Linked DNA regions of Homo sapiens: region 2 is linked to region 1. The links come from fine-mapping of genetic effects on gene expression. A gene starts in region 1. The other region holds a variant in brackets. All regions are shown on one strand. Distances are from middle to middle. Region 1 holds the start of PNLIPRP3 (pancreatic lipase related protein 3). Region 2 overlaps PNLIPRP3 (pancreatic lipase related protein 3).

Evidence for each region. PIP is the estimated chance that this variant, and not a neighbour inherited with it, causes the effect.
Region 2: its variant is fine-mapped to the expression of PNLIPRP3 in sun-exposed skin (GTEx, PIP above 0.99).

What each region holds. Positions count from the first base shown.
Region 1 is chr10:116,424,803-116,430,191 of GRCh38, reverse strand. It overlaps PNLIPRP3 (pancreatic lipase related protein 3), which reads right to left and starts at 2,345. Exons shown (of 12, transcript NM_001011709.3): 1 at 2,131-2,345. The coding sequence starts at 2,179.
Region 2 is chr10:116,452,813-116,458,201 of GRCh38, reverse strand. It overlaps PNLIPRP3 (pancreatic lipase related protein 3), which reads right to left. Exons shown (of 12, transcript NM_001011709.3): 5 at 2,372-2,480. Among named protein-coding and RNA genes, the nearest start is that of PNLIPRP3, 28 kb to the right of the region's middle. RefSeq lists an enhancer at 5,298-5,389. The variant C/TC (reference allele first, on the strand shown) is at 2,404.

The sequences.
Region 1 (5,389 bases):
CTACCTGCAGATATCTGCCCTTCTATTTTGCCTTCACTCTGTTCACAAGAGATGAACTGTCTTTGTTTCTCGCAAAGGCAAACCTTCATCCTATTAAGACTCCATCTTCTCTCACCTACTGAGGGGTAAGGCACAACATTACTCCCTTCTCTTTCTCCTGCTTTACCAACTTTCCTCCTCTCTGCTGGATCATTCCTAGCCTCACACAAACATGCTGTTATTTCTTTCATCTTAAATTGACTTCTAGGATGCTGACTCTCCTAGGTTTCCTACCACTTCACTGAGTACTTCTTGGCAGTCTTGTTTGCTAGTTTGCCTTCATCTTCCTGATTTCTTAATGAGGAAGTGTCCTAGGACTCAGTAGTTCCATCTTCCTTCTCTACCTGCAGTCACTCCCTTGATGATCCTGTCTGTAGTCATGGCTTTAAATATCATCTCAGCAGATCAGGGCAAACTGCCTATTTCTTAATTCTGCCTTCACCAGTCTAACTGCTTTCAGCACTCAATTAGGACTGTCCTGGGGCAGGAGAATCATGCAAAATAGAATATAGTTCTTGAAATATGAAAACTAATGATAGTCCTATCTCCTTCATTTTTTATCCAATAGAGAAGAGCTGGAGGCCAGGGACTGAAAAACACTGAACTGAAAGTCAAGATTGGCCAATTCCACAAGCTAGCGCCAAGATGTTACACAACGAATCTCTCTGTGTTTTGTTTTCTTCATCTGTGTAAATAAGAGCGAACATTTATTGATTGCTCACTACTAATATGTCCCAAATCCCATGCCAAGCATTTTACATGAATTGCAGATTGAGTATCCCTTATCCAAAACGCTTGGGACCAGAAGTGTTTCAGATTTTGTGTTTTGGAATGTTTGCATATACACAATAAGATATCTTGGGGACAGGGTCCAAGTCTTAACACAAAATTCATTTATGTTTCATATATACCTTATACACATAGGCTAAAGGTAATTTTATACAGTATTTTAATAATTTTATGCATGAAACAAAGTTTGTTTTAAGTATTTGTATGTGAAATATTCTGCTTGTGGCATCATGTTAGTGCTTAAAATGTTTCAGATTTTGGAGAAGTTTAGATTTTAGATTTTTGGATTCGAGATGGTCAACTTGCATCTTATTTAATTGGCACAACCCTATAATTTTATTTTGGTTACTGTCCTGTTTCTACAGATCAATCATCTGGGCTTAGAAAGGTTAAGTACTTGTTTAAAGTTAAGCAACTACCAAGCAGCAGAACGAGGACTAAAACCCAAGAAGATTCAGAATTCAAACCGGTGGTTGAACTGAATGTTAGATGTGACGACTGTCTTCTTACCACCATACTATCTCAACCAACTACGTGATACTTTACAACAAAGGGGTTGATCTCTTTCAACATTAAAATTATTTGATTCTAGTTTGGTTAAAATAAATCAACTAATTTTAATGTTTGCTTATAGGCACAATATTAAACATGGATGGTAAAAGTAGCCAAAATCACTAACTCCTTACATTGTAATGTCTAAGGAGTCCATAGTATAAAGAGCAAACATGTCAATGAATACTGAGTTAATGTTTAAGAAATGTCCACAGACTAACAGCCCTCCAGAAAACTGTGACTGAAGTGGAAAAAAAATGGACATTCCAACTGACATTAATAATTAGTTAATTCATTCAATTATTGAGTATCTACTATGAGTCAGCTACAGAATTTGGAAATTTGTATATATTTTCTCATTTATTACTATGTACCCTTCTTAGAAATGAAGAAATTGAGACTTCAATGTCTAAGCCCATAAGACTAGTAAGTGGCAGAGCTAGCAGCCCAACACAAGACTGTCCGGCAACTCTTTTATATTGTTGGAAATAGATGCTTCTTTATGTTCATAAGACTCATTCAGTATTAAGTGATGCATTTTCCATTGATAATTTTATGTTAAGTGAAAAAATAAATAAATACAAAGAAATATAAGCAGCCAATATTTTAAACATATTCATAAAAACAATAAACTACTTAAGAATGAAATTAGCAATAGTAATTTCTAAAGAATAAGTTCATGTCAATTACATTTTAGATGTAAGTATACTCATTATTTTTAAAGAACTTATTATAAATTATGAATCTTACCTCTTGATGTGCCAAAGAACAAGAATGCAACAATCCAAATTCCAAGCATCTAAGCTGATTTTTTAAATCACATAAAAATCTTCTTGAAGATCTTTACTTGTAAAGTCACCTCACTATAAAATACTAAGTGGTTTTCCTCACAATGATGCAACTCAATGTTTAAACTCTACGTTTAAAAGAACATGTTATTCCACCTTATGCTCTGCAAAGTAAATAAAATTATCGGGGTGTGCCTTACATCTTATGATTGGCAATGGAAACTTCCAAGGTTTTGCTGTTTCATTATTAGTAATATTTTGGTTAAGCACAAACTGAGTCACTCTTGAAAGTTACTTTAAGGTTACAAGGTGTTAGATAATAAGCATTTAAAAGGTAATTTTTTTTTTCCAAACCAGGATTAGGCACTTTCAGAATATTTTTCCCTAACTCATTTCTGTGTGTAAGCATCCCAATTAATACAAACAGACCCTGCTATAAGATGTTCCGAGTTCAATAACAAACATAGCTAATCTTTTCCTCTTATCTGTGTGGCAGTATAATATGGGAGTTATCATTATTGTTTTCAGAGCCCGAATGCTGGGTCCAAATTCTGCCTCTGCCACTTATTAGCAGTGTGACCTTGGGCTAGTAAGCCTCACTATTCCTTTCCTTACCTGTAAAATGGGGATGATCGTGGTTCCTAGCTCATATGCTAAATAAGATGATTGAATTATTTATTGTCTGAATAGCACCTGGACATAGTAAGTACTATATTACCTGTTAATTTTTTGGTGCTGTCATTGTTCAACTATGTTAATGGGTGTATGGGCAAATTGATGTTCACATATAGCTAAATATAACCTTACATGATTGTACATAGGCTTCATGATATACTTTAACGTAATAGAAACTTGCCATTTTGGCTACTATGTTAACTTAAAGTGATGAGCAATTCAATCTACAGATATTCTTAGTCAGTTTCTCAATTTTTAAACGCTCATAGAAAATAGCTAACATTATTTCTTAGTTTTTCCTAACTTTTTGTTTCTGACTATTATAATATTAAAATTTCCAACATTTATGAGGCACAGCCTTTTCATAAAAACTTTGTTACATTATGCAAGAATTAGACAAAGAAGAGATTATGAACAAGAGTACTTCCAAGTCCTGGATGTTTTATTTGGTTGAAACCTTTCCTGGTATTCATGGCAGCCAGTCCACACTGGCATGCAGACCTGCAGTAATTAGAGAATTAACTATTCAACAGCACCAAGCAGTGTGCTGGACACGCTGTGAGTGCCCACACTATAGAAAAATCACCCTCTGAAAGCTTCACTAGTTACAACTGGCTGTTTTTTTTTCCAAGCAACACCTCAAGAATCAATGTTTTCAGCCATACCTGTAAGATAAGTATGAATAACATTTAATACATTCATCAGTAGGAGCTCTCAGAAGACTACATGTTATTTATATCTGCATCCCAAGTGACAAGCACAATGTCTGGGACTTAGTAGGTACTTAATAAGCATTTTTAAATTAAAAAGTACAAAGACCTACAATGATAATATAGGATATTTTTAAAAACCACATCCTTTTCTGTGTTTTTACAGCAATTTATAATGACTCTCTTATAACACTTAGGATATTATAGAATTGTTAGGTATTTACATTTTACTCTCCTCCTCCAGATCGAACTATTCTGAGACAAGCTGGGTTTTGTTCATCTCTGGGCCCCCAGCACATAGCAATAGGTCTATCATCACAGGCACTTGGTCAATATTTGTTGAAAGAAAAAGATAGCATTAGATTTCATTGATCTCATAGCATCCAAGGAAATTCTTACCCTAGAGAGATTATCATTCTGAGAGATGAAGACCCATACTTTAACAATTGTATTTAATGAGTGTCAGATACTAGTGAATCCATAAATGCTTGCTGCAATCGTTGTAGTTCTGCCTGAAAAATGTCCCATACAGGAGTTAACAATAGCTTTTAAAAGTTCATCACAAAATCCATTCTCTTTCCAAAACTCCCAGCCCAGCATTGCCAATACATTCTGGGCCTTTCAGATACTTTATCTGAAGCATAAAGTCATCATATCCAAATCTTAAGAAATGCTTTTCTCTCCAAAGAGCTCTTCTTCATGCCTTCCCTGTTCCTGTTATTAGAACTGCTATTATTTGAGTCACAAGCTGGAAACATTCACATCATCTTTGACACCCTTAAAGTCCCTGCCTCCCTCATTCCATGAGTCGAGCCAGGCCCTGTTGATCCTCCTTCAATGGTGTCTCCTTCATTCATTCCCTCCTGTCAGACTCACTGTCAACATCCACACTCAGATCTTCCTCTTATGCCTGAAACATCGTTGCTGGCCCAGGCTTCTCTCTTCTCAATGAGGCATCACAGATATTGTTCCCAGGTAAACCATCTGGAATCACATCTCTGATCACACTCTCCTCGAATGTCCCTATTGAATAAAGCTCAAATTACTTAACTTAGATCAAGGACTTTCTTGTCTTCTCCTTGGTCAACCATCTGAGCTGTAAAGTCCATGCCCTTCACCCATGTTGCTCCTGTCCACCTGCTGAGTGTTGGGCGTGCTGTTTCTTCTACTTTGACGGTCCTTCCTCGCCTTTTTCTATATATATCTACACCCCCGTCATAAATTCAAGCCCCAGTTCAAATGTGAACAATCTCTTTCATAAATATTTTTTCTGATCATCCTCAGTTGGTTAAGATTTCTCTAGTTTCTGAACACTCACTGCATTTTTTTATTTTTAATCTTTTATAACTTAAACATTATATTACTTATTTTTTACCCCCTTTAACTAAATTGTAAGCTTGAAAGCCAAGAGCATACATTTGTATGCTTGTTGGTACAGGTTTTTTCTAGAACACAGATCTGATCATTTTTCTAGGAGATAAAATCTAAACTCCTTAGCATTCCTGCAGGGCCTTTAGCAAACTGCCCCCACGTGCTTCTTTTACCACTTCCCCACTTTAAGCACCCTTCAAGCTGAACCACTTAGAACAGCAGTCCCCAACCATTTTGGCACCAGGGATCAGTTTTATGGAAGACAGTTTTTCCACGGGATGGGGTGGGAGGATGGCTTTGGGATGATTCAAGGACATTACATTTATTGCATACTTTATTTCTATTATTATTACATTGTAATATATAATGAGATAATTCTACAACTCGCATTAATTTAGAATCAGTGGGAGCCCTGAGCTTGTTTTCTTGCAACAAGGGTCCCATGTAGGGGTGATGGGAAACAGT
Region 2 (5,389 bases), 28 kb before region 1:
GCGTTGATACTGTTTATAAATAAAAATAAATAAAAGCAGAATCAGCTGAGTAACCCCCTAACTATATTTATTATGACAACTACTTACCACTTATACATAAATACCAAAGACATAAAAACTTATGTATGTCCTTAATATGTTTATCATATTAATTTTGTTTTTAAGTGGTTAATTATACAGCTAAAATCTGTTTGTGAGGTCTCAGTTCTTCTATTACTCAAGGAACATGATTGCCCAAAAACTAATTTCTCAGAGGAATATAGATTAAAACATCCACATAATATTAATTCTTTGGACATTCAGAAAACCTTTAAAAATCTGTTTTCTATTTACCCAGCAGGATAATTCACCTGATGGGAAAAACTAGAGTTAAATAGTATCTGATTTTTGAAAAAACTTAATAAAAACAAAATCTCTTTGAATTGATCATAACCCAGTATGAATTGTAAATGCAGTTATGTGTTCTGCTTCACTCAGCCTGCCTGAGGCTGTGAGGCCCCATGAGGTTCCATCTTCAAAAGAGGAACTCATTCCTTCTTTTTTCTGGGCTTGAAAATTGACCACAAAGGGTCACATAATGACTTCAGTGAAAAAGTTCAGTTTTTATTATTCTAAATAAGAATGGTGGTGGTGGTGGTGGAGGTGAGTGAGGAGGATTTAGGAGCAGAGAGTTAGGAGAAGAGAGATGACTTATAGCAGGAATAAGCCTGTTATATCAACAGATTGCAGAGACAAAATAATCCCAATTTGGACTTCTAGGTATTTTTTTAAAAACTGTGTTCTAAATTGAGATTTGAATTTAAAGTGTGCATGTATGTGTGTGTGTGTGAGAGAGAGAGCGAGCACGTACACACACATGCACACAGAGCACAGCAGTTTAACAAAGAGAAAATACGCTTCTGTGGCCAAGCCTGGAGTCAATGCAGTAAGGAGGCTTTCTGTTAAAAATAACAGGCTCATCCATAATTATAAGACCATGTGATATAATATTTGTGTTTTCAAACACAAAAGAGGCACATGTCAAAGGGTATGAGAAGCACAGAGAATTAATTCCTGCCTGAGGAGGAAACATTTGAGATGAATCTTGACAAATGGACAGTGAATGCTCAGCAAGAGGGACAACAGCACGTGCAAAGGCACAGAGCATGAAAAACTGTGATGAAACATGACAAGTTTACGTGACAAGCTAAGAGGCTTCACACAAGGAGACACCCTGAGAGATTTGGAGCAGTGGAGTGGCATGGCCTGCACCTGGAAAGATAAGCCTGGCAGTATTTGTAGAAGACTAGGCTGGGGCACCAGCGGGGACCAAGGCCAAAATGCAGGCAAGAGATGAGGGACTGAGCCAGGACAATGACCAGAGGATGGACAGGGAAAAGGCAGATGAAGGAGACGTGGGGCTTGCTTACTGGCTGTTGGTGGGGGGATGCAGAGGGAGAGGCCAGCCCCGCCTGTTGGTAAAGGAGCTGTTGCTTTGACCTTCATCCATCTCACACAATTGGTTTGGAAAACAGAATGTGGGGAGGAGACATGATTAATTATTATACCCCCAAACCCAATTCATGCTATATACTTTGCTCCGCAACTTATTTTTAGACTTAACGGTATATCCAGGGATAATATTAAAAATGGTAACAACTGAGTAAGCTGCAGTCCAAGTGTGTCAGGAACGTCCAGGACAATCAGTGGGATTCAAACTCATTCTTTTTAAAAATAACTTTTAAAAATTGATATATAATAGTTGTCCATATTTTGGGGGCACATGTGGTATTTTGAGACATGTATACAATGTGTAATGATCAAATCAGGGTAATTGGGACATCCATCGCCATAATCATTCATCTTTTCTTCGTGTTGGGAACATTACAGTCCTTCTCTTCTAGCTATTTTGAAACATGTAATAAATTATTGTTAACTGTAATTTCTGTATCATGTACTAGAATGTACTCCTTCTAGCTATGGATTTTTGTACCTGTTAACCAACTTCTCTTTAGCCTCCCCTCTCTTCTTCCCTTCCCAGCCTCTCATAACCACCATTCTACTCCTACGTCTAGGTAAACCTCACTCTTTGCATTACTGGTATGAAATCCCAAAGGATGGAATGTGTTATAATTGCTTCAACCATTCAATTGCGGGTGAGGGAACACATAGTTTCTCTTACTTTGTCACCACAGACAACGCTGCAATGAACCCCCTTGAAGCGAATCTGCACATTTCTGCTCTGAAAACACGTTCACGTTTTATTTCATTGGAATCACATTTTGTAGTATCTTATATTTTCTTCTGCAGTATTACTTGGTGTTCAGATACTTGGTAGTGTGTGTAAACAATATTTAAACACACTCAAGGCCCAACTGCAGGGCATGCTTACCAGTTATTCTTCCAAGGCCTGGTATCCTTGAC[C/TC]CAGCTTCCCCAGCCAGGTGTGCTCCCAAGCTGTGGCCAATCAAGTGCACTTTAGAAGGGGAATATTCAAATTTTTTCTGAAAGAATTGTTTAACAGAATAAGTATTTTAAAAACAGCGGTGGAATAGCTTAAATATGCTTTAAAAATAGAAAAAAAAAAGGATCAACATGGTTCTCCCTTTTGCACATAAGACAGGGACTGGTAAAGTCACAAAGTGACACCTCTGCCTACATCCTTATCCAACTGAAGGAGAACAGATGAGCTTGGAAGAATGCCTTCTATAGGAGCTCTCCTCCTTGTGCTAAGGGGCTGGCCTGTGGTCCTTGGAAACAGGAGAACAGCCCTAACAACTATATTCGTGGCTTCTAGCTCCATGCTGATCCTTCCTGAGGCCCAAATCCTTTCAGCATGCTCACAACATGCATCAAAGGCAGCTCATTCCTACAGTTATCCACCTTGCCTGTGTCTGTATCCCAGGTTAAGGCAACACTAGAAAATGTATGGGATAACTTTGGTTTTAAAACAGGAGCTTTTAAGAATATTCACAAACTCAAATAACTCAATATCAAGAAAGCAAATGATCCAATTGAAAATGGGCAAAGGATTTGAATAGTTATCAAAAGAAGACATACAAATGGCCAACAGATTTATGAAAAAATGTTGAACATCCTTAATCATTAGAGAAATGCAAATCAACATCACAATGAGATATCACCTCACATCTGTTAGAATGTCTCTTATAAATTAAACAAGAGCTGTCAAAGATTTGGAGAAAAGGGAAAACTTGAACACTGTGGAGGGAACGTAAATAGGTATAGCCACTATGGAGAATAATATGGAGGTGCCTTGAAAAACTAAAAATAGAATTACTATATGATCTATCAATCTCACTTCTGGGAATATATGCAAAGGTATCAAAATCATTATGCTGAAGAAGAGATATTTGCACTTCCATTTCATTGCAGCATTATTCTCAATAGCCGAAATATGGAATCAACCTGTGTCCATCAATGAATTAATGGATAAAGAAAATGTGTTATACCTGCACAATGAAAAAGGAAATTCTGTCATTTGTGACAACATGGAAGACATGCTAAGTGAAAGAAGCCAGGCATAGAAAGACAAACACTGCATGACCTCACTTAATATGTGGAATTTTAAAAAGTCAAACTACGTAAGTAGAGGATAATAGTAGTTATCAGGGACTGAGATTGGGGTGTGGTGAATAGGGAGATATTGATTAGTGGGTACAAAGCTTCAGTTACACAGGAGGAATAAGTTTCTGAGATTTATTGCTTAGCATTAATAGTAATGCATTGTATATTTCAAAATTGCTAAGAGTAGGTTTAAAACACTCTCATTATTAAAAAATGGTACATCTGCCAGGCGTGGGGGCTCACGCCTGTAATCCCAGCACTTTGGGAGGCTGAGGCGGGCAGATCACGAGGTCAGGAGTTCGAGACCAGCCTGACCAACATAGTGAAACCCATCTCTACTAAAAAAATAGAAAAATTAGCCAGTCGTGGTGGTGTGTGCCTGTAATCCCAGCTACTCAGTAAGCTGAAGCAGGAGAATCACTTGAACCCAGAAGGCAGAGGTTGCAGTGAGCTGAGATCAGGCCACTGCACTCCAGCCTGGGCAACAGAGCGAAACTCCGTCTCAAATCTCAAAAAAAAAAGAATGAGATCATGTCCTTTGCAGGGACACAGATGAAGCTGGAAGCCATCATTCTCAGCAAACTAACACCAGAACAGAAAACCAAACACTGAATGTTCTCACTCGTAAGTGGGAGTTGAACAATGAGAACACATGGACACAGGGAGGGAACAACACATCGTGCGGCCTGTTGGGGGTGGGGGACAAGGGGAGGGAGAGCATTAAGACAAATACCTAATGAATGCAGGGCTTAAAACCTAGATGATGGGTTGATAGGTGCAGCAAACCATCACGGCACGTCTATACCTATGTAAAAAACCTGCACATTCTGCACATGTATCCCAGAACTTAAATAGTGCTGGCATCTGCTTCTGGTGAGGCCTCAGGGAGCTTAGAATCATCGGGGAAGGCAAAGGAGGAGCTGGTGTATCACAGAGTGAGAGCAGGAGTAAAAGGCAAGTGGGGAGGGGCCGTGCTCTTTACAATCAGATCTTGTGTGAACTAACCGAGCAAGTACTCACTCATCACCAAGGGGGTGGCACTAAACCATTCATGAGAGATTCATCCCCATGATCTAATACCTCCCACTAAGCCCCATTTCCAAATTGGGGATGACATTTCAATATGAGATTTGGAGGGGACACACATCCAAACCATATCATTCCACTCCTGGCCCCCCTACACCTCATGTCCGTTTCACATTGCAAAATACAATCATCCCTTCTTACTCTTCCCCCAACATATTAATCATTCTAGCATCAACTCAAAGCTCAAAGTCAAAGTTCTCATCTGAGACTCAAGGCCAAGTTCCTTTTACCTATGAGCCTGTAAAATAAAAAACAAGTTATTTACTTCCAAGACATAAGGGAGGTACAGGAATTGGGTAAACAGTTCAATTCCAAAAAAGAGAAATTGGCCAAAAGAAAGAGGTAATAGGCCCCATGCAAATCTGAAACCCAGCAGGGCAGGCATTAAATCTTAAAGATCCAACATAATCCTTGACTCCATGTTCCATATTCTGGTGTGAGGAGTGGGATCCCAAGGCCTTGGGCAGCCCTGCCCCTGTGGCTTCTCTGGGTGCAACCCACATGCTGCTCTCTGGGGTTGGAGTTGAGTGCCTGCCAGTTTTTATAATCATGGATCTTCCAGTGGATCTAACATTCTGGGATCTGGAGGGCAGGAGCCCCTTCCCACAGATCCACTAGGCAGTTCCCCAGTGGGGACTCTGTGTGGGGGTTCCAACCCCACATTTCTTCTTGGCATTGCCTTAGTAGAGTTTCTCTGTGGGGGCTCTGCCCCTGCAGCAGACTTCTGCCTGGGCACACAGAC